3 separate regions of the Homo sapiens genome follow, and all the other regions are linked to region 1. The links come from fine-mapping of genetic effects on gene expression. A gene starts in region 1. Each other region holds a variant in brackets. All regions are shown on one strand. Distances are between the middles of the regions. Region 1 holds the start of LAMB2 (laminin subunit beta 2). Region 2 overlaps QRICH1 (glutamine rich 1). Region 3 overlaps NCKIPSD (NCK interacting protein with SH3 domain).

The links.
Region 2: its variant is fine-mapped to the expression of LAMB2 in whole blood (INTERVAL, PIP above 0.99).
Region 3: its variant is fine-mapped to the expression of LAMB2 in whole blood (INTERVAL, PIP above 0.99).

The regions. Positions count from the first base shown.
Region 1 is chr3:49,128,803-49,136,977 of GRCh38, reverse strand. It overlaps LAMB2 (laminin subunit beta 2), which reads left to right and starts at 3,928. Exons shown (of 32, transcript NM_002292.4): 1 at 3,928-4,186; 2 at 4,315-4,487; 3 at 4,573-4,708; 4 at 4,789-4,862; 5 at 5,255-5,443; 6 at 5,536-5,599; 7 at 5,826-6,028; 8 at 6,118-6,238; 9 at 6,559-6,747; 10 at 6,960-7,139; 11 at 7,262-7,374; 12 at 7,654-7,733; 13 at 7,826-7,958; 14 at 8,159-8,175. The coding sequence starts at 4,111. LOC124909377 (a long non-coding RNA gene) reads right to left here and starts at 4,110. Exons shown (of 2, transcript XR_007095905.1): 1 at 3,359-4,110. RefSeq lists a silencer at 448-742, a cis regulatory region at 2,275-2,488 and enhancers at 3,022-3,837, 4,655-5,470, 7,999-8,175.
Region 2 is chr3:49,068,418-49,076,592 of GRCh38, reverse strand. All of the region lies in intron 2 of QRICH1 (glutamine rich 1), which reads left to right. Among named protein-coding and RNA genes, the nearest start is that of QRICH1, 22 kb to the left of the region's middle. The variant G/TG (reference allele first, on the strand shown) is at 4,062.
Region 3 is chr3:48,667,879-48,676,053 of GRCh38, reverse strand. It overlaps NCKIPSD (NCK interacting protein with SH3 domain), which reads left to right. Exons shown (of 13, transcript NM_016453.4): 13 at 1,307-2,210. The coding sequence ends at 1,510. LINC02585 (long intergenic non-protein coding RNA 2585) reads right to left here. Exons shown (of 3, transcript NR_111921.1): 3 at 6,880-6,955. Among named protein-coding and RNA genes, the nearest start is that of LINC02585, 8.2 kb to the right of the region's middle. The variant G/T (reference allele first, on the strand shown) is at 5,022.

The DNA of each region.
Region 1 (8,175 bases):
CCTGCCTCAGCCTTCTGAGTAGCTGGGATTACAGGCACCCGCCACCACATCCAGCTAATTTTTGTTATTTTTAGTAGAGATGAGTTTTCACTACATTGGCCAGGCTGGTCTCAAACTCCTGACCTTGTAATCTGCCTGCCTTGGCCTCCCAAAGTGCTGGGATTACCCTTTTTTTATTATCATTTTATTTTTTATTTTTTTTAGAGACAGAGTCTCGCTCTGTCACCCAGGCTAGAGTGCAGTGGTGTGATCTTGGCTCACTGCAAGCTCCGCCTCCCGGGTTCAAGCAATTCTCCTGCCTCAGCCTCCTGAGTAGCTGGGAGTACAGGCACATGCCACCATGCCTGGCTAATTTTTTGTATTTTAGTAGAGATGGGTTTTCACCGTGTTGCTCAGGCTGGTCTCGAACTCCTGAGCTCAGGCAATCTGCCTGCTTCGGCCTCCCAAAGTGCTGGGATTACAGGCGTGAGCCACTGCGCCCGGCCAACAATTGCCTCTTGTAAGCCTCCAGCACACCACTGGATAGTTGTGTCTAAGGCAGGATCAGTGAGAGGCTAGGGTCAGGGTTTGTTGGCTCAGAGTTCAGGGTTCAGGCCTAAGATCCCTACCCTCTTCCCCACAGACAAAGGTGTGGACACCACAAGTGTGGAGCTGGCTGTCAGTGCCCCTTCCCCAAGGTGGGGGCAGTAGGCATTGCTCTTCTGCTGGGTCAGATCCAGGGTGCTCTCCCTGTACCGGATGCCATGGGCCAGAAGCTGCCCAAAGCTGAAGGCATCCTCCATCAGGCAGAGTGAACCAGGTGAAGGGCCAGGAGGCTGGAGGTGGAAGTCAGAGGGTGGCCAGAAAAGGGATGCCTAACTGAACACCTGTGTTCTTCAAGGAGGGTACAACCTGGGCCCAGCACCAAGCACTGGATGTTCAGGGGGTGCTGGCTGAGGGGGGAATGGAACTCATGCAGGGGCCGCAGAGCAAGGGCTACAGGAAGTGAAGCTGGCACTTGAAGGCCTGGAGGGCACTGTACAGGAGGTGATACCCTACTTGTACCCTCAGCTCCTTTACATCCCTTGTTCAATGACTGCTGTGATTTCCATTCTCCCTGAGATCCTTGACTCACTATGATACCACAGTGCTACCAAGTACCTTGACCGTGATAACACTCAGCCTAGTTGCTACTGTGCTGTGTCCTCTCTGTGACCCCCTAACCTTTGCCCCAGGTAGTAGGGCGCCTGGCCCAGATGGCACTGGCAGTTGAGGTGACCCCAGTCCCAGGGCGTCTGTCCAGTGTAGCTAAGGTGCTCAGGGCATGTTTTGTCCTGAGTCAGCAGCAGGCCCAGGAGGCAGAAGAATGGGCAGCATGAGTCGTAGGCAGGGCTGAGGGCCTGGGCAAGATGAAATGGGGAAGAGTGGGCACTGGGGTCTCAGGGACCCCTCTGGAACAGTGGAAAGTGGGGTTTGGGCTGGGGCTGGGCTATACTGGACTGAGGCGGGATCTCAGTTCTAAATTCTCCTTTTCTCCAGGAACCTTAGGCAGTAATATATTTGAGGCAATATATTCTGGGTGGGGTGGGGATTCAGGTCCAGCCCTGCCCTAGGAGTTGTAGGTGGCCCCTTTGGCTGTGGCCGAGCTGCAGGAGGACACATATGGCCTGGTAGCCACTGTGCAGGATGCAAAAGAATGGGTGCAGCAGGCTTGAGCTGAGGCCCAGGAGCTCCTGAAGAAGGCATAAAGCAGCTTCAGCTGCCTGCATGGTGCATGGCTGGCCTGCAATAGGGCAGGCACAGGGAACGGCTTAGGGTCAGATGGAAAGGTCAGGGCCAGAATAGGGATGTTGTGGAAGGGTTAAGGCTGGGTCCAGATCAGATCTTGACTCATGTAGGGATCAGGGCTAGGGTCAAGGTTTAGACCAGGGATCAAGTGTTGATTAGGTTCAGGGTTTATTTAAGGTTAGGGCTGGGTCAGGGTCAGGGTTGTGATAGAGACTGGGACCAGGATCAGAGGTTAGAGCCAGGGGTCAGAGCCTGGCTCAGATGACCTGACCCCAGGGTTGGAGTGCCGCCTGACACAGAATGCACAGGCACTGGGCAAGAAGGCAGCCACCCTGCAGGCCCTGGAGCAGCAGGCAGCTGAGCTGCTTGGGCACATGATGTGCTTTGCCACCAATAAGTATGCCACCTGCTAATTACTGTCTATGGAAGCCATTAAGAAGGACTGTGGGATCACCTGGGTAACTCAAAGTGGCCCTAGAGTGATCCAGGAATCTCCTGGCCTTGGGAGACCAAAGATCCTACTGAGTGCCCACTGACCCTGAGTGACCCCCCCATGTGGCCCCACGATGTCCCCCAGTGGCCCTCTGACCTTGAGAAAGCAGACAGATCATGTAACTCCCTGAGGCCATCTAGTGTCCCAGACCTTGATACACCTTTATCTCTGAGTGATCTAAAACTGTGAGACTACAGTGCTGGCATTCTCCACTCAAAATAAATAGATGGGGCCTGGCACTATTTACTGGCTCATGCCTGTAATCCCAGCGCTTTCGGAGGCAGAGGCGGGAGGATCACCTGAGATCAGGAGTTCAAGACCAGCCAAGCCAACATGGTGAAACCCCATGTCTACTAAAAATAGAAACATTAGCTGGGCGTGGTGGTGGGCGCCTGTAATCCTAGCTACTTGGGAAGCTGAGGCAGGAGAATCGCTTGAACCTGGGAGGCAGAGGTTGCAGTAAGCGGAGATCTCGCCACTGCACTCCAGCCTGGGTGACAGAGCGACACTCTGTCTCAAAAAAAAAAAAAAAATTAAAATTCTCAGTAATTTCTAGTATCCCTGATCCCCCAGGTTGACTACATGATCCTCAGGGTGACTGGAGACCTCTACTCCGGATATCCAGAATAACTCCCAGCGATGCCTAAAGTCCAACGGATTGACTGACCCCCACCCAACCCTCACCCAACCCCCACCCCCGCCGCCCCCATGCTCCTTTGTGAAGTGGGGTGATTCCCCTGAGGAACTATCATCAGCTTTCTTCCCTGGATGGCAGCTCAGGGCACTCCCTGCCGGGACTGTGGAGGCGGCAGGCCAGACCCAGCCCTAAAGACCGGAGGACCCCATGTTTCCCCCAGCTTCCCGTTCCCAGGGCCCTGGGTGGGGCGCGCCCCATATCCCCCACCCACTTTCCTCCTTCTCTCCCCCTCCACGCCGCCGCGCACATTCCAACCCCAGGCTCCTGCGATCCCGGCAGGCCAAAAAGTCTGGAGCGGATAAATAGCCACAAGATCCGGAGTCGCTCGCCGTAGCTCTGGTCCACCACCCAGAGCCTATTTCCATACAGGGAAACCCGCAGCACTTCTCGTGCCTACTTACCGTAGTGACTAGTGGGGGAGGCAGTGACCCCCCTGGAGCTGTGCTTCGGGCTGGGTGTGCACTTTCCCCATCTCTCCCCCAGCCCCATTCTGTCCAGTCCCTAGGACTACCCGAGAGCCCCCCACAGCCCTGAATAGGGGCATGTGTTGCTCCTGCTTGTGCCCTCCAGCCTCTCTGTTGATGCTGGAGCCCTGGGATCAAACGGCTGAGTTGATGGTAATTTCCACGGCGCCCATGACGCTGAGGGGAAAAGGCTACGGTCTCCTTGGTCCAGAGTTGGAGATCCCGAAGATCTCTCATTTGCTCCTGCCATGCCCCCAACTTCGTGAGCCCTCTTCCAAGGATAGTTTAAAGCACCAAACCCCTTACCTTCCCCTGGCCCTCGTATAGGTGTGGGCTTGGGGGCACAATAAAGATTTGTGGGTGAAGTGGTCTGTCTCTGGTTCCTGGGGCGAAGGCAGTTTCCGGAGGGAAGGGGTAGGGTTGGGGTGGGGGCGCTCTCCGCCCGGTGTTGCGCTCCTTCCCAGAATCCGCTCCGGCCTTTCCTTCCTGCCGCGATTCCCAACTTTGCTCAAAGTCGCTGGACTCTAAGCTGTCGGAGGGACCGCTGGACAGACCTGGGAACTGACAGAGGGCCTGGAGGGAAACAGGCCAAAGACCCACAGGCAGAGTTGACACGGAACCCCAAAGCAAGGAGGAGGGCTCGGGCCCGAGACCGTTCACCTCCCCTTATCCCTGTTCCCCTCTTCAGGATGGAGCTGACCTCAAGGGAAAGAGGGAGGGGACAGCCTCTGCCCTGGGAACTTCGACTGGGCCTACTGCTAAGCGGTGAGAGGGCCTGGTGGGGGCTGGGGGTTGTGGAATGTGATGGTAGGTCCTGGTAGTTGCCCTTGGGGCACATGAGGTGGAGCCACTGGATAGGAACTCAGCGGAACTGACTGAGCTACTGTCCCCAGTGCTGGCTGCCACACTGGCACAGGCCCCTGCCCCGGATGTGCCTGGCTGTTCCAGGGGAAGCTGCTACCCCGCCACGGGCGACCTGCTGGTGGGCCGAGCTGACAGACTGACTGCCTCATCCACTTGTGGCCTGAATGGCCCCCAGCCCTACTGCATCGTCAGTCACCTGCAGGTGTGGCTGGGGACAGGGTGTGACGCCGAGTCAGGGTGGGGCTGGCACTGCCTGAGGCACTGATTCTAATCCCCATCCAACCCAGGACGAAAAGAAGTGCTTCCTTTGTGACTCCCGGCGCCCCTTCTCTGCTAGAGACAACCCACACAGCCATCGCATCCAGAATGTAGTCACCAGCTTTGCACCACAGCGGCGGGCAGCCTGGTGGCAGTCAGAGAATGGTGAGGCCATGGGTGGGGCAAAAGTGAGCAGGGCTGCCCACCAGTAGCTTTGAGTCCTTGACTTCCGATTCCTGTCCCAGGTATCCCTGCGGTCACCATCCAGCTGGACCTGGAGGCTGAGTTTCATTTCACACACCTCATTATGACCTTCAAGGTGCCTGCATATCTGGGAGCCTGCCCGAATCACCCTGCTTGGCTCTCCATTGCCCCTGGACAGAGCCTCAGCTCCTTAACACAGCCTCCTTGAGCATGGATGCAGGAGGCTCCTTCATCCCTTCACACCTTCCATTTGCCTCCAGGCCTTTGCACATGCTCTTCTGCCTTTCCAATCCCAGGCTGGGTCAGGCGCTGTCTCCCTGAGCCCCATGAACCCTGAGTCTCCCCATTAGAGGTGGCTACCTTTGCTGGTCATTATCTGGCTTCCACCAGTCACCCCCACTCTCTGTGAGCTATTTGAGGGCAGTCTTGGGCTGAGCAGGGCTCTTGATGGCTCTGGGTTGGGCTTGGGTCCTGGTGCCTGCTGATCAGCTATGCCCCCCTACCCAGACATTTCGCCCTGCTGCCATGCTGGTGGAACGCTCAGCAGACTTTGGCCGCACCTGGCATGTGTACCGATATTTCTCCTATGACTGTGGGGCTGACTTCCCAGGAGTCCCACTAGCACCCCCACGGCACTGGGATGATGTAGTCTGTGAGTCCCGCTACTCAGAGATTGAGCCATCCACTGAAGGCGAGGTGAGGGCTGGCATCTGGGCTGGGGGCTGGAAGCTGGGGATGATGGGCCTGAGGCAAGGTCCAGTGTGACTATGAACTCCCTGCTTCTCCAGGTCATCTATCGTGTGCTGGACCCTGCCATCCCTATCCCAGACCCCTACAGCTCACGGATTCAGAGTGAGTGCTCCACCCTTTGAGTCTGGCACAGTCCGTGTCCGGCTAGGGACTATTTGGGGCCTCAGTAACTATTTTGGGTGCTTCCTAGGGCAGGTGCCAAGCCCAGTTTAGCTCGGGTGGCAGTGTATAGGAGGTCTTTCAAGGTGACCTTGGCAGCTGAGCCCCTGGGTGGACATGGGGCAGCAAGGGCCTGCCTGGTCAGTTGGCCCCCCTTCCCCCGCCTCAGACCTGTTGAAGATCACCAACCTACGGGTGAACCTGACTCGTCTACACACGTTGGGAGACAACCTACTCGACCCACGGAGGGAGATCCGAGAGAAGTACTACTATGCCCTCTATGAGCTGGTTGTACGTGGCAACTGCTTCTGCTACGGACACGCCTCAGAGTGTGCACCCGCCCCAGGGGCACCAGCCCATGCTGAGGGCATGGTAAGGGGCTTCAGACGGTTGGGATAGGGCTAGGGGCAGGGGCGGACATGGCTGAGCAGTGCTGACAACCTACCTGCCAACCTCTATAGGTGCACGGAGCTTGCATCTGCAAACACAACACACGTGGCCTCAACTGCGAGCAGTGTCAGGATTTCTATCGTGACCTGCCCTGGCGTCCGGCTGAGGACGGCCATAGTCATGCCTGTAGGAGTGAGTGAGATCTTGGCCTCCATAGCTCCAGCACTCTGCAGCCTGGCTGTGCCCTGGGTAGAACCTAGAGCTAGTTGGTCAAGCCCCTAAAACCCAGGCTGTATCCAAAGAGTATGCAGACCTTGATGCCCCTTGGGACCCCCTCAATCCTCCTCTGCAGTCTGCTCTGGGTAGGGAACCAGTATGATGCTGAGGCCTTGAAGTCCCTGAGCCCCTACCCACAAATTCTGGCCTGTGATAGGGATCTAAGGTGGCCTACTTCTTACCCTTGTGACCTGGTTCCTCATGTGGCCTTTGCCCTGCCCTTCCTCCCCTGCCAGAGTGTGAGTGCCATGGGCACACCCACAGCTGCCACTTCGACATGGCCGTATACCTGGCATCTGGCAATGTGAGTGGAGGTGTGTGTGATGGATGTCAGCATAACACAGCTGGGCGCCACTGTGAGCTCTGTCGGCCCTTCTTCTACCGTGACCCAACCAAGGACCTGCGGGATCCGGCTGTGTGCCGCTGTGAGGCTGGGATTGGGCACGGGGAGAGAAAGCTGAGCCTGGGGCAGGAACTAGAGAGCTGGACTGCTGTCTAAATTGCAGGAAATTGGGGTTAGGGGCTTGGGATAGAACTTGACCAGGGATCCAGGGTGGGATCCCTTAGGCTTAGGAGAGGACTGGCAGTGAGCTAGTTGAGATAGGGTGAGTGACCCTGTATCTCTTTTTGCCGTCAGCCTGTGATTGTGACCCCATGGGTTCTCAAGACGGTGGTCGCTGTGATTCCCATGATGACCCTGCACTGGGACTGGTCTCCGGCCAGTGTCGCTGCAAAGAACATGTGGTGGGCACTCGCTGCCAGCAATGCCGTGATGGCTTCTTTGGGCTCAGCATCAGTGACCGTCTGGGCTGCCGGCGTATGTGTCTCCTGCCCTAACTTCTATGCTGACCTTTAACCCCTGTCCTCTTACTCCTGACTCAGCTGAACATGAGCACTGCCACAGTTTCCCAAAGTGCTGATGGTTCTCCTTCCCTGCAGGATGTCAATGTAATGCACGGGGCACAGTGCCTGGGAGCACTCCTTGTGACCCCAACAGTGGATCCTGTTACTGCAAACGTCTAGTGACTGGACGTGGATGTGACCGCTGCCTGGTGCGACTGGAAGGGGCTGGAGTTCTAGGGGCATGATTTGTCCTTAGAGCACAGGGCTGGGGTGTCACATCTATGCCAGTGGGTGGGTGCTGAGAGCTTAGGATCCAGTCCTGGCTGAGAAGCCTCAGGTCTGGGAGGCCAAGGATGTGGGCCAGTGGTCTGGGGGGCATGTTTTCACTGAGGGGTGATTGAGGCTAAGACGTGTGGTTGGGATTTCCTGCTGGGTGGTGATGGGGTCTGGAGGTCTGTTTCTGGCCCCCAGCAACTCCTTTCGTGCAGCCTGGCCACTGGGGCCTGAGCCACGACCTGCTCGGCTGCCGCCCCTGTGACTGCGACGTGGGTGGTGCTTTGGATCCCCAGTAAGTGTTGTAAAGGGGGCCTGGGAAGGGATGGGGAAAGATCCTGAGCAGAAGAGAAGGTTCTTCTTGAGTAACCACAGAGTTCCCTCCAGGTGTGATGAGGGCACAGGTCAATGCCACTGCCGCCAGCACATGGTTGGGCGACGCTGTGAGCAGGTGCAACCTGGCTACTTCCGGCCCTTCCTGGACCACCTAATTTGGGAGGCTGAGGACACCCGAGGGCAGGTGTGGGGCCTCCCCCTAAGCAGAGGGCTGGATGTGGGTGGACACGTCTATGACTGGAGAGGTGGGGTTATGGGCAGTACCTTGTTGAGGGGATAGGGGTGATATCTAGCTTTGGCAGGAGAAATGGGGTTTGGGGCTGGCTGTGGCAGAAGAGGCAAAGCCTCACCTGAGCCTCCATCCCTGGCTGCATTATCTCCCAGGTGCTCGATGTGGTGGA
Region 2 (8,175 bases), 60 kb after region 1:
TTCAAAGTTAATGTGGACTAAAAGTTTTTTCTTTCTTCTCCTTTTTCTTTAAGCTTTTTTTTTTTTTTAAACAAACCCCAGTGTCAAGGACTGACTTTGAATAGATTGCAGCCAGGGATCTGCTTAGCTACCTAGGAAACCCCAACCCAGAAGCGGGTCATCTATGATTGGTTTAGCATCAGGTTCAACGTGACTTGCGTGATGAGTGAGGGGGCGCCACCTTTCTGGCAGCACCTTTTCCCAGGATGAGGGGCTCTCCACACCGGAACCCGGTCCCGGCACGTGACCCCGCCGGCGGCGATGTCAGTGATGGTGGGGGACTGGCTTTCCGAGGCTGACCAACACTGTGGTGCTGCCATGTCATTGTACTTGGGTTGTTTTCTTTGTTTGTTTCTTCTTTTTTTGAGATGGAGTCTTGCACTGTGGTCCAGGATGGATTCTCCTGCCCCAGCCTCCTGAGTAGCTGGGATTCCAGGTGCCTGCCAACACACTCGGCTAATTTTTTATACTTTTAATAGAGACGGGGTTTCACTATGTTGGCCAGGCTGGTCTTGAACTCCTGACCTCATGATCCACCTGCCTCCTTATCCAAAAGTGCTGGGATTACAGGCATGAGCCACCGCACCCGGCCACACCTGGGTTGTTTTTTTCTTTTCTTTTTTGAGACAGAGTCTCATTCTGTCACCCAGGCTGGAGTGCAGTGGTGCATTCTTGCCTCTGTCCCCCGGGTTCAAGCTATTCTCATGCCTCAGACTCCTGAGTAGCTGGGACTACAGGTGTGCACTACCACCCTCAGCAATTTTTGTTGTATTTTTAATACAGACTGGGTTTCCCCATGTTGGGCTTGAACTCCAGACCTCAAGAGATCTGCGTGCCTTGGCCTCCCAAAGTGCCAAAGTGCTGGGATTACTGGTGTGAGCCACCATGCCCAGCCTTTTTTTTGTTTGTTTGTTTTTTCTTTGAGTTGGAGTTTCGCTCTTGTTGTCCAGGCTAGAATGCAATGGAGCCATCTCGGCTCACTGCAACCTGCACCTCTTGGGTTCAAGCGATTCTCCTACCTCAGCTTCCTGAGTAGCTGGGATTGCAAGCATGTGCTACCACGCCCGGCTAATTTTTGTATTTTTAGTAGAGACTGGGTTTCACCTTGTTGGCCAGGCTGGTCTCGAACTTCTGACCTCAGGTAATCTGCCCTTCTCGGGCTCCCAAAGTGCTAGGATTACAGGCATGAGCCACGGCGCCTGACTTTTTTTTTTTTTTTTTTTGAGGGACAGGGTCTTGCTCTGTCACCTAGGCTGGAGTGCAGTGGCACGATCACTCCTCACTGCAGCTTTGACCTCCAAGGCTTAAGCGATCATCCAGCCTCAACCTCCAAGTAGCTGGGACCACAGGCATGTACCACCACGTGCAGCTAATTAATTAATTTTTTTTTTTTTTGTAGAGATATAGTCTCCCTATGTTGCCCAGGCTGGTCTTGAACTCTTGGCCTCAAGATATTCTCCTGCCTTGGCCTCCCAAAGAGCTGAGATTACAAATATGAGCTGCCATGCCTGGCCTTAAAAATATTTTCGAGTACTGTAAACTAAAAACACCACAGATATTTGGTCTTTTTTATTTAAGATGGAGTCTCGCTCTGTTGCCCAGGCTGGACTGCAGTGGTGCAATCTCAGCTCACTGCAAGCTCTGCCTCCCAGGTTCACGCCATTCTCCTGCCTCAGCCTCCCAGGTAGCTGGGACTACAGGCAGCTGCCACCACGCCCAGCTAATTTTTTTGTGTTTTTAGTAGAGACGGGGTTTCACCATGTTAGCCAGGATGGTCTCGATCTCCTGACCTCGTGATCCACCTGCCTCGGCCTCCCAAAGTGCTGGGATTACAGGCATGAGCCACTGCGCCTGGCCCAAATATTTGATCTTTGCTGTGGAGAGCTGAATAGTTTTGAAATTAGAGATCTTTTGGTACTGGGTTTAGGTGTGATAGCTTCATATGACTGAGGCTTCCTTTCTTTTCTTTTGTATTTTTTCCTGAGATGGAGTCTCGCTCTGTCCCCCAGGCTGGAGTGCAGTGGTGTGACCTTGGCTCTCTGCAAGCTCCGCCTCCCGGGTTCACGCCATTCTCCTGCCTCAGCCTCCCGAGTAGCTGGGACTACAGGCGCCAGCCACCATGCCTGGCTAATTTTTTGTATTTTAAGTAGAGACGGGGTTTCACCATGTTAGCCAGCATGGTCTCGATCTCCTGACCTCATGATCCGCCCACCTCGGCCTCCCAAAATGCTGGGATTACAGGTGTGAGCCACCACGTCCATCTGAGGCTTCCTTTCTATTTGTGTCATCCTGAATAGAGACAGAACACAGGAGGGCTGGTCTTGGCTGATTACTGATAGTGTAACATTTGAAATTAATTTAAAAATGGAAAGGCTGATGTATTTCAGTGATCTTCATTAACTTGTGTGATTCCATAACTCAGATTACGTATGGATTTCTGGGTCTGTGTTTGTTGTTTCTAAACCACAAAACGGCTAAGTGCATTTGTGAATGCCTGTAATCCCAGCACTTTGGGATGCCAAGGTGGACGGATCATTGAGTCCAGAAGTTTGAGGCCAGCCTGGGCAACATGGCAAAACCCCGTCTCTACAAAAAATAAAAAAAAATTACCCAGGGATGGTATGTACTTGTAGTCCCAGCTATTTGGGAAGCTGAGGTGGGAGGATTGCTTGAGCCCAGGAGGTTAAAACCAGCCTGGGCAACATGGTGAAACCCTGTTTCTACCAAAAATAAGAAAAAATTAGCTGGGTGTGGTGATGCACGCCTATGGTCTTAGCTACTAGGGAGGCCGAGATGGGAGAATCGCTTGAGCCTGGGAGGTGGAGGTTACAGTGAGCTGAGATCGTGCCACTGCACTCCAGCCTGGGTGACAGAGTGAGATCCCATCTCAAAAAAAATAAAAATAAAAATTGTAAGGCACAAAAAAATAATGCTAATTGATGATAAACTTTCTGAAAGACGAGAAACTAGTACATTTGTTGAGAAGGTAAAATGTTTTCCTTTTTTTTTTTTTCGAGATGGAGTCCCACTGTGTCACCCAGGCTGGAGAGCAGTGGCGTGATCTCAGCTCACTGCAACCTCTGCCTCCTGGGTTCAAACGATTCTCCTGCCTCAACCTCCTGAGTAGGTGGGATTCCAGGCACCTGCCACTGTGCCGGCTAATTTTTGTATTTTTAGTAGAGACAGGGTTTCACCATGTTGGTCAGGCTGGTCTTGAACTTCTGATCTCAGGTGATCCACCGGCCTTGGCCTCCAAAGTACAGGTGTGATCCACCGTGCCTGGCCAAAGTTTTCCTCTTTAGAGGTCTTTATGTGAGATAACAGGCTCCTCTAGTTGCAAATGCAGTTTTCTTGCCATTGTCTATTATGGTTTAATTTCATTGTATTCTGGAAGTCTTTTTATACTAAGAGGATAGGAAAGGGACTGAAACATGCTGGAGAGGCAGGAGTATGGAGAGGTGTGCCTGGTGAGATAGAAGGTTTCCCTTTCCTTCATTTTTTCTGTTTTTTTTTTAAGAGACAGGATTTCACTTGCCCAGGCTGGAGTGCTGTGACATGATCATGGCTCACTGCAGCCTCTACCTCCTGGGCTCAGGTGATGCTCTCACCTCAGCCTCCCGAGTAGCTAGGACTACAGGTGCGTGCCACCATGCCCAGCTAATTTTTTCATTTTTGGTAGAGATGGACTCTCGCCATGTTGCTCAGGCTGGTGTTGAACTCCTGGCCTCCAGCAGTCCTCATGGCTCAGCCTCCCAAAGTGCTGGGATTATAGGCATGAGCCACTGTTCCCAGCTGAAGTAGGTTTCACTGTAGCTCCTCAAAAATGCAGACGAGTATATTGGAAGGACATAGCCTCTGAAGCTTCAGTACTGGGTTTAAATTTGACTTGACCACTCAATTGTTGGCATGAGCTTATTAATCTTTACCTCCAGTTTGTTCATCAGTTAAATAAGGATAATACCATTTAATGAGACTGAATAAGATAATAAAGTATCTGGCATATGGAGAGTTTTTTTTTTTTT[G/TG]TAATGGAGACAGGGTCTCATTCTGTCACCTAGGTTGGAGTGCAGCGGTATGATCTTGGCTCACTGCAACCCCAGCCTCCCAGGCTCAAGCAATCCTCCCACCTCAGCCTCCCGAGTACATGGGACCACAGGCGCACACCACCAACACCTGCCTAATTTTTTGTATTTTTGATAGAGCCAGAATTTCACCATGTTGCCCAGGCTGAGATTTACTCATTTTTTATCTTTATATTTATTTACTTACTTTTTGAGACAGAGCCTCACTCTGTTGCCCAGACTAGAGTGCAGTGGCATTATTTTGGCTCACTGCAACCTCCATCTCTGGGGTTCAAGCTAGCACGCCCGACTAATTTTTATATTTTTAGTAGAGATGGGGTTTCACCATGTTGGCTAGGGTGGTCTTGAACTCCTGACTTTAAGTGATCTGCCAACCTCGGCCTCCCAAAGTGCTGGGATTGTAGGCATGAGCCACCACGCCCAGCCTTGTTTTGTCTTTGTAAGGAAGAAAAGGTACAGGAAAGGTTAAGTAAAAGAAGGCTGGCCCAGGCATGGTGGCTCACACCTGTAATCCCAGCACTTTGGGAGGCTGAGGTGAGTGGATTCCTTGAGCCTAGGAGTTTGAGACCAGCCTGGGCAACATGGCGAAATCCTGTCTGTACAAAAGTACAAAAATTAACTGGGTATGGTGGCTTGCTTGTGTGATCCCAGGTACTGGGGAGGCTGAAGTGGGAGGATCACCTGAACCTGGGAGGTCATGGTTGCAGCGAGCTGTGATTGTGCCACTGCACTCTAGCCTTTTACACTAAGGACAGGAAAGGTGTCTCAAAAAAAGAGAAAAGAAGTCTGATTTTCTGGCTCAAATTATTCTGCTGTTTTTTACAGCTTTGACCTCCTCTTCCTTACCACGCCTGGCCAATTTTTGTACTTTTTTCAGTAGAGGTGGGGTTTCATTCACCATGTTGGACAGACTGGTCTTGAACTCCTGACCTTAAACGATTCACTTGCCTCAGCCTCCCAAAGTGCAGGCATGAGCCATTGCACCTGGCCCCTAGGCTGGTCTTGGGACTCCTGAGTTCAGCTGAGCCACCCACTTTGTGGGTGTTTGGATTACAAATACAAAGTGTTTGGATTACAGGCACAAGCCATTACACCTGGCCCCGCTTTCTCATAAGATTAAAGAGTTTGGGGCTGGGTGCGGTGGTTCATGCCTGTAATCCCAGCACTTTGGGAGGCCGATCAGGAGATTGAGACCATCCTGGCTAACACAGTGAAACTCCGTCTCTACTAAAAATACAAAAAATTAGCCAGGCCTGGTGGCGGGTGCCTGTAGTCCCAGCTACTCGGGAGGCTGAGGCAGGAGAATGACGTGAACCCGGGAGGTGGAGCTTGCAGAGAGCCAGGGTCACACCACTGCACTCCAGCCTGGGCGATAGAGCAAGAGTCTGTCTCAAAAAAAAAAAAAAGTTTGGGGATTTAAGTTTGGAGTGTTTTTTGAGACTTTATGTTCAAGATAAACTGATGAATGCTTGAACTTGGAAGGTAGAGGTTGCAGTGAATCAAGATCACACCACTGCACCACAGCCTGGGTGACAGAGCAGACTCTGTCTCAGAAGAAAGAAAAGCCACTGACCGAGATCACTATTAACGTTCGTCTTTCTCCCTAAACTCTATGTAAATGAAAGAAGAAACAAATATAATGACATCCATGAGATAGATTCAGTGTGATAGAATCATAAGAATGTATGTTTTCCCTAAGTGACTAAAAAGATACTTTTAAAAAATAAAGAATTCTGGCCAGGCCAGGCATGGTGGCTCACACTTGTAATCCCAGCTGTTTGGGAAGCTGAAGTATGTAGATGACTTGAGCCCAGGAGTTTGAGACCAGGCTGGGAAACATGGTAAAACCTCATCTCTACAGAAAAACACAAAAATTAGTTTGGCATGGTGGTGTGCACTTGTAGTCCCAGCTACTCAGAAGGCTGAGGAACTCCTTGGGCCCAGGAGTTCGAAGTTGCAGTGAGCTGTGATCACGCCACTGCACTCCATCCTGGGCAAAAGTGCAAGACCCTGTCTCTATAAAAAACAGAACAACAAAGCATTTTTAAGAGTGTTGGAAAAAATGAATACCATTTAAAAACCACTAAATCTAAGAAATTGATAAAAGAGAATAAGTAGACAGAATTAGGTGATGAAAGGCCAGGCGTGGTGGCTCATGCTTGTAATCCCAGCACCTTGGGAGGCTGAGGCAGGCGGATCACCTGAGGTCAGGAGTTTGAGACCAGCCTGGCCAACATGGTGAAACCTCATCTCTGCTAAAAAATACAAAAATCAGCCGGGCATGTTGGCAGGTGCCTATAGTCCCAGCTATTCGGAGGCTAAGGCAGGAGAATTGCTTGAACCTGGGAAGCCAAGGTTGCAGTGAGCTGAGATCGTACCATTGCACTCCAGACTGGGCAATGTGAGCGAAACTCTGTCTCCAAAAAAAAAAAAAAATTTGGTGACAAATGCGTGTAGGAAAGAACTTTTGGGGAAAGTGGGGCAGTTCTTAGAGTGCCCTAAGCTGAGAAGTAGAGGATACACAGAGTAGAGGTCCACTGGGGTAGCTTTAGAACTAAAGGTTGGGAATTGACTAGAGACTTCAAAACACACACATACACATATGTATACTTACAGCTCACATTACCTTGATGAGCAAGTTAGAGATACATTAGTTTGATGATAATTGTTACTGCTCTTTTGAGTAAGAATCATAGGCTGGGTGCAGTGGCTCATACCTGTAATCTCAGTACTTTGGGAGGCTGAGGCAGGAGGATCCTTTGAGTTCAGGAATTCAAGACCAGCCTGGGCAACATAGTGAGACTTTGTCTGTACTAAAAATAAAATTAGCCAGATGTAGTGGTACACACCTGTAATCCCAGCTACTGAAGAGGCTGAGGTGGAAGGATCGCTTGAGAATACTTTATCTCAAAAAAAAAAAAAAAAAAAAAATTCCCCCCCATGGATCTGTATTTTCGCCAGCCTTTTAGAGTGCTCTTTGTGGTCCCCTCGCCCACACAGATTATCAACTATTAATGCAAGTTATAAGTGTAATTGGAGGAAACGTCCTTTTTTTCTGTAAAAAATAATTTTCAGCTGTGTGTGGTGGCTCATGCCTCTAATCCCAGCACTTTGGGAGGACAAGGCGGGTGGATCACGAGGTCAGGAGTTCAAGATCAGCCTGGCCAAGATGGTGAAACCCCGTCTCTACTAAAAATACAAAAAAGTAGCCAGGTGTGGTGGTGGGCACCTGTAATCCCAGCTACTCGGGAGGCTGAGGCAGAGAATTGCTTGAACCCGGGAGGCGGAGGTTGCTGTGAGCCAAGATTGCGCCACTGCACTCCAGCCTGGGCGACAGAACAAGACTATCTCAAAAAAAAAAAAAAAATAATAATAATAATAATAATAATAAATTTTCTACTTGAGGCTTTTTTGCCTTATTCAAGTAGTTCTAAAAGTCTTATCACAAATTTCTAACCTACAGGATGCTAGAGAGATGGTTTGTGCTATATGATACCTGCAAGAGTAGTTTTATTCCTTTCTACTTTAAATTTTAGCCAAGTTTGGCCGGGTGTGGTTGCTCATGCCTGTAATCCCAGCATTTTGGGAGGCCAAGGTGAGTGGATTGCTTGAGCTCAGGAGTTCTAGACCAGCCTAGGCAACATGGCAAAACTCCCATCTCTACCAAAAATACAAAAAATTGGCCAGGCATGGTGGTGCATGACTGTGATCCCAGCTACTCAGGAGGCTGAGGCTGGAGGATCACTTGAGCCCAGGAAGCGGAGGTTGCAGTGAGCCGAGATCGTGCCACTGCACTCTAGCCTGGGCAATAGAGCACAGACCCCATCACAAAAAAAAAAAGAAAGAAATTTTAGCCAAGCTTGGCTCTGTCATCCATGCTGGAGTGCAGTGGCATGATCACGGCTCGCTGCAGTCTGGACTTCCTGGGCTCAAGTGATCCTCCTGCTTCAGTCTCCTGAGTAGCTTGGACTACAGCTACTACGCCCAACTAATTTTTTTTTTTTTTTTAATTTTTTTGAGACGGAGTCCTGCTCTGTCACCCAGGCTGGAATGCAGT
Region 3 (8,175 bases), 460 kb after region 1:
CTATAGCTTAGACGCTGGTGTTTGATGTGCAGGCACCTCAGTATGACTCCCAGGGCTGGGACTTAGCAGGGTGTGCTGCCTAAAGGAGGTTTTGGTATTATTTCTCTAATTAAAGGTAAAAAGAGAAATGAGGGATGTTGAGGGAAGCAGACATCAGGTCAGTGGACTGGGGGTCTCTGTGAGAACAAGCTGTCAAGTCATAAGGGCTGGCCGGGCGTGGTGGTTCACGCCTGTAATCCCAGCACTTTGGGAGGCCGAGGTGGGTGGATCACTTGAAGTCTGGAGTTTGAAACCAGCCTGGCCAACATGGCGAAACCCCGTCTCTTCTTAAAAAAAATACAAAAATTAGCCAGGCATTTTGGCACATGCCTGTAATCCCAGCTATTTGGGAGGCTGAGGCAGGAGAATCACTTGAATCCAGGAGTCAGAGGTTGCAGTGAGCCAAGATCATGCCACTGCACTCCAGCCTGGGTGACAGCACGAGACCCTGTCTCAAAAAAAAAAATGATATATATATATATATATCATATATATATATATATATGATATATATATATAGATCATAAGGGCTGTTGGAACTGGTTCAGCCAGAGGTGTTGGGAGTATAGGTTGGAGGAGAGGCTGTTGGAGATGAATTTGGGGCATATGTAGGAGGTAGGATGGCCAGGTCTTAGACATGGCTTGGATATGAGGTATGTGGGAGACAAGAAGCAAAGAGGACACCATATTTCAGGCCTGTGCTTTTGAATCGGCAACAGTGCTCTTTCTAAAGGTAAGAACATGAGAAAACCTTCAACTCTGGGAGGATGGGAAAGATCATGAGTTTGGTGGTAGATATGTGGATTTGAGGTCTGTCACATGTGCAGGAGATGTCAAGTGGGCAGTTGAATATTCTTGTCTGGAGCTCACAGGGGAGTTCTAGGTAAGAGGTATGAGAGTGGTTCACTATTTGAAGCTGTGAATGTGCACGAGGTCTTCCAGGGTAAGAGAGGATAGGGTGAGAAGCAGAGGGCCTCTGACTGATAGACAGAGGCACCTTGAGAGACCCAGCTTCAAAGGATGGGCAGGACTTCCCTGGGCAGGCCACATACTTGGGGCTGTCTGTGGCTGGGATGATTCGTTTATTCGCTTACTCAAAAACTATTGAAGACCAATTCTGTGCCAGGTATATTGTGGGTGCTGGGGATGCAGCCCTGATGTTCAGGTCCACAGCCCTGGGGTCTGTGGGACAGTGGGGTCCTGTCCCTGTCCAGTGGTGGTTGCAGTACCTCCCTGGGGTCCCTGAGCTGGCCTGCTCTTCCCACAGCTGCGCATGGAGTACCTCTCCCTGATGCATGCTATAGTCCGCACCACACCCTACCTGCAGCACCGCCACCGGCTACCCGACCTGCAGGCCATACTGCGACGCATCCTGAATGAGGAGGAGACCTCACCCCAGTGCCAGATGGACCGCATGATTGTCCGAGAGATGTGCAAGGAATTCCTGGTGCTGGGGGAGGCTCCCAGCTAGCACCTTGCTGTCCTCCCTTCCCTGCAGCTCCAGTCAGTGTGCAGGGGACTCAGGGGCTTGGCCCTAAGAATGTTTTGCACTGACAGTGGGAGGGGATAAGGTGGCAGAAGGAACCTGAGCAGGACCCCCACCTGAAGTAGAACTTAAGAGAGGGGCCAAGTGTAGGATTGGGGACCATGGTCTGGGAGCTGTTCTGGGGCAGGGGGAATATGCAAGCTAAAGCCCCTCTATACCCTGGTAGGCTTCCTCTTCAGCATGCCCCCCTCTTCACCCCACACCCATGTGTACACTCAGAGTCCTGCTGCCGCTCCAGGCTGGACCAGACCCCCATCCCCACCCCTCCTGGTCTGTATCCTGGGCCTCAGCAAGCCATGCCCCTGGGGTGAGGGGAGGCATCTCCCACCAGCTCTATTCTTTGCCTTAGCTTTGCAGTGAGTGCTGCTCATGTCCTCCCCTCCACCCGCACATGGGGGTCGCTGCCCTTCACTCCTACCCCCAGAGGCCTTGGCCAAGCTGCTGCTTTGAAAGCGGGATCTTGGAGACAGGCCATCCATCCTGGAGCCTCATGGAACAGGATGATGGCACTGAGAAAGCCAATGACCGAATCTCTTTTCTCTGTAAAAATGTAGACTGAAAAGCCATGTGTATTTTCCTATGTGCTGTAGCTCTCCTTTGGAAATAAATCACAGGCATCTGGAAACAGGCTTCCCTGTATGATCTTGGGAGACAGTGGGAGAGGATGGGCAGAAGTACTGGGGCCTCAGGACCCCATCACTGCAGCTTGCACTGACTTCTCCAGCCTGAGGAGGTGATGGACCCTGACAGGCCTGGCCTTCAAGGCCCTTTGAGCCCTGTTCTAGCCTCTCTTCCCTGAGCTCCACTTTTCCTGAGCCCCAGCCATAGCCAAGTGCCCCTCAGCAGCCCATTCGCAGGTGTCTGCATCTCCAGGCTTCACTTACACACTTACATCTTTCTTTTTCTCCTTTTTTTTTTTTTTGAGACAGTCTCACTCTGTTACCCAGGCTCACTGTAGCCTTGACCTCCCAGGCTCAAGTGATCCTCCTGCCTCAGCCTCCTGAGTAGCTGAAACTACAGTAGCCACCATGCCCAGCTAATTTAATTTTTTTTTTTTTTTTTGGTAGAGACAGGGTCCTACTATGTTGCTCAAGCAGGTCTCAAACACCTCAGTTCCGGTGATCCTCCTGCCTTGGCCTCCCAAAGTACGGGGATTATAGGCGTGACCCATCGCACCGGCCCGCTTACATCTTTCACTTACATCTTTTGCTTTGCTTTGAATACCGCTACTCTCTCCCCTGTTGAAACCCTATTGTCCTTCATAGTTGTTCTCAAATGAAGCAGGCCCCTACCTACCCCCAGCCCTGGCCTCTGAATGCTTGGGCCTGTCCAGCCCTATTTTCTTCCCCCATTTGTCCTTGTTTCCAGCAAGATCACCTCATCTTGCAACCTCAGCAGAGATCTGGTAATCATGGTAGGGCAGAAGGAGGGTCTTAACAAGCATGGGGTTACGTTTCCATTAGTGTTTTAGAGGAACTAAGGGCCAAAATTTGGCAAAAACTTCACTCTTGCAGACTCTCAAGTTAGCAAAGAAGTTCTCACCATAAGTTTGGGAGCAGAGTCAGAAACCCACAGGCAGACACCAGTCAGAAGTGTTGTTTCTGTTTTCTAGATTGAGTCTCACTATCTTTTCAAGGCTGATGTCCAACTCCTGTGCTCAAGCAGTCCTCCCACTTCAGCTTCCCGAGTAGCTGGGACTACAGGCACACACCACTATATAGGCTTCACACACAAGTGGTTTTCATCAGTTCCCTTTATTTTTTACCCAAACTCTTCATTCATCAGATGTTTCCACACATCAGCAATCACTGACACTGACTTCTGGTCATGACTTTTTCTTTCTTATTGGGGTGCTGAAAACAGAGGGCAGTTATCCTCCCAAAAAGAAGGTAAAGCAGCACAGGGAGGCAAGGGCTAGGGATGGGGCCCCCCAGCAAGAGGCTCTCAGAAGTTGAAGCAGCAACATTCCATAGGAAACCCATGGGAGGAAAGTATGGGGTCCTGGTGGGGGATGCCCTGCTCACCGCTTACTGTCAGAAGGCCAGGTGCACAAACTCACTGGGACCTGAGGAGGGGTTGACAGTGTTTGGCCCCCAGTAAAGCTCTGTGGGACACAACCTGGTTACTAACTTTTTTTTTTTTTCTTTTTGAGACGGAGTTTTGCTCTTGTCACCCAGGCTGGAATGCAATGGTGTGATCTCGGCTCACTGCAACCTCTACCTCCCAGGTTCAAGCGATGATTCCTCTGCCTCAGCTTCCCGAATAGCTGGGATTACAGGTGCCCACCACCACATCCAGCTAATTTTTGTATTTTTAGTAGAGACGGGGTTTCACCATGTTGGTCAGGCTGGTCTCGAACTCCTGATCTCAGACGATCCACCTGTCTCAGGCTCCCAAAGTGCTGGGATTACAGGTGTGAGCCACCGCGCCCAGCCCCCGCTTTTTTTTTTTTTTTTTTTTTTCAGATGGAATCGTGTTCTGTCACCCAGGCTGGAGTGCAGTGGTGTGATCTTGGCTCACTGCAACCCTTAACCTCCTGGGTTCAAGCAATTCTTCCTGCCTCAGCCTCCCCAGTAGCTGGTATTACAGGCGCCTGCCACCACACCCGGCTAATTCCTGTATTTTCAGTACAGATGGGATTTCGCCATGTTGGCCCGGCTGGTCTTGAACTCCTGACCTCAGGTGACCCACTCACCTCCGCCTCCCAAAATGCTGGGATTACACGCATAAGCCACCACGCCTGGCCTGGTTACTACTTTTAACCCTGGAGACATTCTGCCTCCTTTTCATATCCAAAGTCAATGACACTGACTTCCAGTCACAACTCCTTTCTCACTGGGGTGCGGAAGGCAGGGAAGTATTCTTATGAGATAGTGTATTTCAGTAAAAAGCACAGGTCCTCAGGAAGCTGAGGCAGGGACATCGGACAGCCTTTGTGACTTGCTGTGTTTCCTGTCATGATGCACACACAAACCCTGTGGGAACGGCAGGACTGTGCTGTGCCATCTGTCCCAGTGCTGGCACCTAGGTCAAACAAGGTATGGCCCCATGGCAGAAGCCTCTGCTCACTTCTGCAGGAGTGCCCAAGGTGGGCCCTGGCACCTGTTTGTAAGAGAAGCAGAAGCCCCAGCTGATGAAGTTACATACATGCTGACTCCTGGTAGCAAGCGTGCTCTGAGGGGACTCCAGGACCTCTTCAGCAAACACCCTTGTGGTGGCCTCACAACACAAAATTACAACCAAAGGCAGATTATGATTAGTCAGAGAAGTCCTCTTGGGGAGGGAACTGTCTTTGATAGAACACGTCTATGGCTGCGTGGAAGGTTGGTAGATGTGATATGTGGGTAGGCAGTAGGAAGGGCAATGAGACAGAGCATTAAGCCACCCCAAGAAAGGGGAGTGTTTGGGTAGAGTTGAGAAGAACTCAAATTTTGGG[G/T]GACAGTGAGGGGGTTTGGGCTGACTTCCTGGGTCAGAAGTTTCTGAAGCTGCAGCTAGGAATGGGTGTGTAAGTGTGCAGGTGGCTCACACCTGTAATCCTAGCACTTTGGGAGGCCGTAGAGGGAAAATCGCTTGAGCCCAGGAGTTTGAGACCAACCTGGACAGCATAGGAAGACCCCATCCCTACAAAAAATACAAAAATTAGCTGGGCGTGGTGGCCCACACCTGTAGTCCTAGCTACTCGGGAGGCTGAGGTGGAAGAATCACTTATGCTCAGGAGCAATTGCACCACTGCACTCCAGCCTGGGTGAGAGTGAGACCCCAACTCAAAAAAAAAAAAAAAAGTGCTGGCACCGTGTCTTTGGCATATGTGCTGAGCCATAAGCTGCACATGCATAAGGCCAACCCCAGGATGAGGGGTCAAGTAATTCTGTCTCAGCCTCCTGAGTAGCTGGGATTACAGGCGTGCGCCACCACACCCAGCTAATTTTTGTATTTTTAGTAGAGACAAGGTTTCTCCTTGTTGGCCAGGCTGGTCTTAAACTCCTGACTTCGGGTGATCCACCCTCCTTGGCCTCCCAAAGTGCTGGGATTACAGGCATGAGCCACCACACCCAGCGTATCCATCCACTGTTGATGACCTTTCAGTTGTTTCCAATTTTTGTCTGTTGCAAATACTGCTGCCAGGAGCACTGTTGTACATGTCTTCATGTTGCTCATACGCATTATTTTAGGAGGGTATATTCCCAAATAAAGAGTGGAATTTCACGGTCACAGGCAGATACTGCCAAATAGGTTTCCAAAGTAGTTGTACCAATGTATGCTCCTTCAGTAGTGTCAGACAGTTCAAGCTTCTATCTTTCCCAAAACTTGGTATTGTCAAGTCATTTTTATTTTCGCTATCCTGGTAGAGTGCAGTAGTCCTCCCCTCTCCACCTTTTTTTTGGGAGGTAAAGTCTTGTTCTGTTGCCCAGGATGGAGTCCAGTGGTGCATTCTCAGCTCACTGCATCCTCCTCCTCCTGGGTTCAAGCGATTCTCATGCCTCAGCCTCCCAAGTAGCTGGGACCACAGGCGTGGGCCAACATGCCCGGCTAACTTTTGTGCTTTGAGTAAAGACAGGGTTTTGCCATGCTGGCCAGGCTGGTCTCAAACTCCTGGCCTCAAGTGATCTGTCCATCTCAGCCTCCCAAGGTGCTGGGATTACAGATGTGAGTCGCCTCACCTAGCCAGTATTTATTTTTTTCAATTTGCATTTCCCTGATGACTAAAGAGGTTGAGCACCTTTTCAATATTATTTGAATGTTCTCTTTTGTGAAGTAACTATTCGAATCTCTTGCCCCATTTATCTGTTTGTGTATATTTTATTGATTTGTAGTATGTATTCAGGATATGAGTCCATGGATGTTCTATCTTAGAGTATCTTCTCCCACTTTTAATGTCTTTTGATAAAAGAAGGTTCTCAATCATTATGTAATCCAATTTATCAATACTTTCCTTTATAGTTAGTGTATTTTATGTCCTATTAGACAATCCTGTTAGACAGTCCTGTCCTGTTAAAAAATCTTGACTGGCTGTGGTGGCTCATGCCTGTAATCCCAGCACTTTGGGAGGCCAAGGCAGGAGGATCACTTGAGCTCAAGAGTTCCAGACCAGCCTGGGCAAAATGATGAGACCCTGTCCCTACAAAAAAGTAAAGAAATTAGCCGGGTGTGGTGGAGCATACCTGTAGTCTCAGCTACTCAGAGGCCAAGACAGGAGGGTCCCTTGAGCCTAGGAAGTCGAGGCAGCAGGGAGCTATGATCGCGCCACTGCACTGCAGGCTGGGCCACAAAGTGAGACCCCCATCTCTAAAAACTTTTTTAATATAAAAACAAATTTTTTAATCTTTGCTTTCACGCTTGTGAACAGCCACTGCACTCCAGCTCCCGTCTCTGTAAAAAAAAAAAAAAAAAAGTTTGCTTAAAGTCACCTTTAAGATCTTCTCTTGGCCAGGTGCAGTGGCTCACGCCTGTAATCCCAGCACTTTGGGAGGCCGAGGTGGGCGGATTACAGGGTCAGGAGATCGAGACCATCCTGGCCAACATGGTGAAACCCCCATCTCTACTAAAAATACAAAAATTAGCTGGGCGTGGTGGCATGTGCCTGTAATCGCAGCTACTCGGGAGGCTGAGGCAGGAGAATTGCTTGAACTAGGGAGTCAGAGGTTGCAGTGAGCCAAGGTTGCACCACTGTATTCCAGCCTGGCGACAGAGCGAGACTCTGTCTCAAAAAACAAAAAACAAAACAAAAAACAACAACAACAAAAAACAAAACAAGGTCTTAATACTGTTTTCTAGAAACTGTATATTTTCAGATGTCAAATTTATATGGAATTGATTATGCAAGCAGTGTGAAATAGAGATCTCATTTAATTTTTTCTATATGGATATCCAACTGACCCAGCATCATTTATTGAAAAGCCTATTCTTTCAGTTAATAGAGTTGCTCCTGGGGAAACAAAAAAAAGAAAACAACCCTTTCTTCATGTTAGCTCTGAAGAACCACCCTTGTCAAAATTCAAGTTTCCACACATCTTCAGGCCTGTCTCTGGATTTCGTTCCTTTAGTCTTCCTATCCTCGTACCAGTACCACACAATCTTGGTTTCTTTTTATTTTTTAATTTTCATTCTTTTTTTAGATACAGGGTCTCTTGCTCTGTTGCCCAGGCTAGAGTGCAGCATGTGATCATAGCTCACTACAGCCTCGACCTCCCCAGAGCTCACATGATCCTCCCACTTCAGCCTCCCAAGTAGCTGGGACTATACAGGCATGTGCAAAATTTTTGTATTTTTTGTAGAGATGGGGTTTTGCTGTGTTGCTCAGGCTGCTAAATCTAGTTTGTCAGTTTACACACACACAAAATCTAGTGGGATTTTTTTTTTTTTTTTTTTGAGACAGAGTCTTGCTCTGTCGCCCAGGCTGGAGTGCAGTGGCGTCAACTTGGCTCACTGCAAGCTCCGCCTCCCCAGGTTCACGCCATTCTGTCTCAGCCTCCCAAGTAGCTGGGACTACAGGTGCCCGCCACCACACCCGGCTAACTTTTGTATTTTTAGTAGAGACGGTTTCACCATGTTAGCCAAGATGGTCTCGATCTCCTGACCTTGTGATCCGC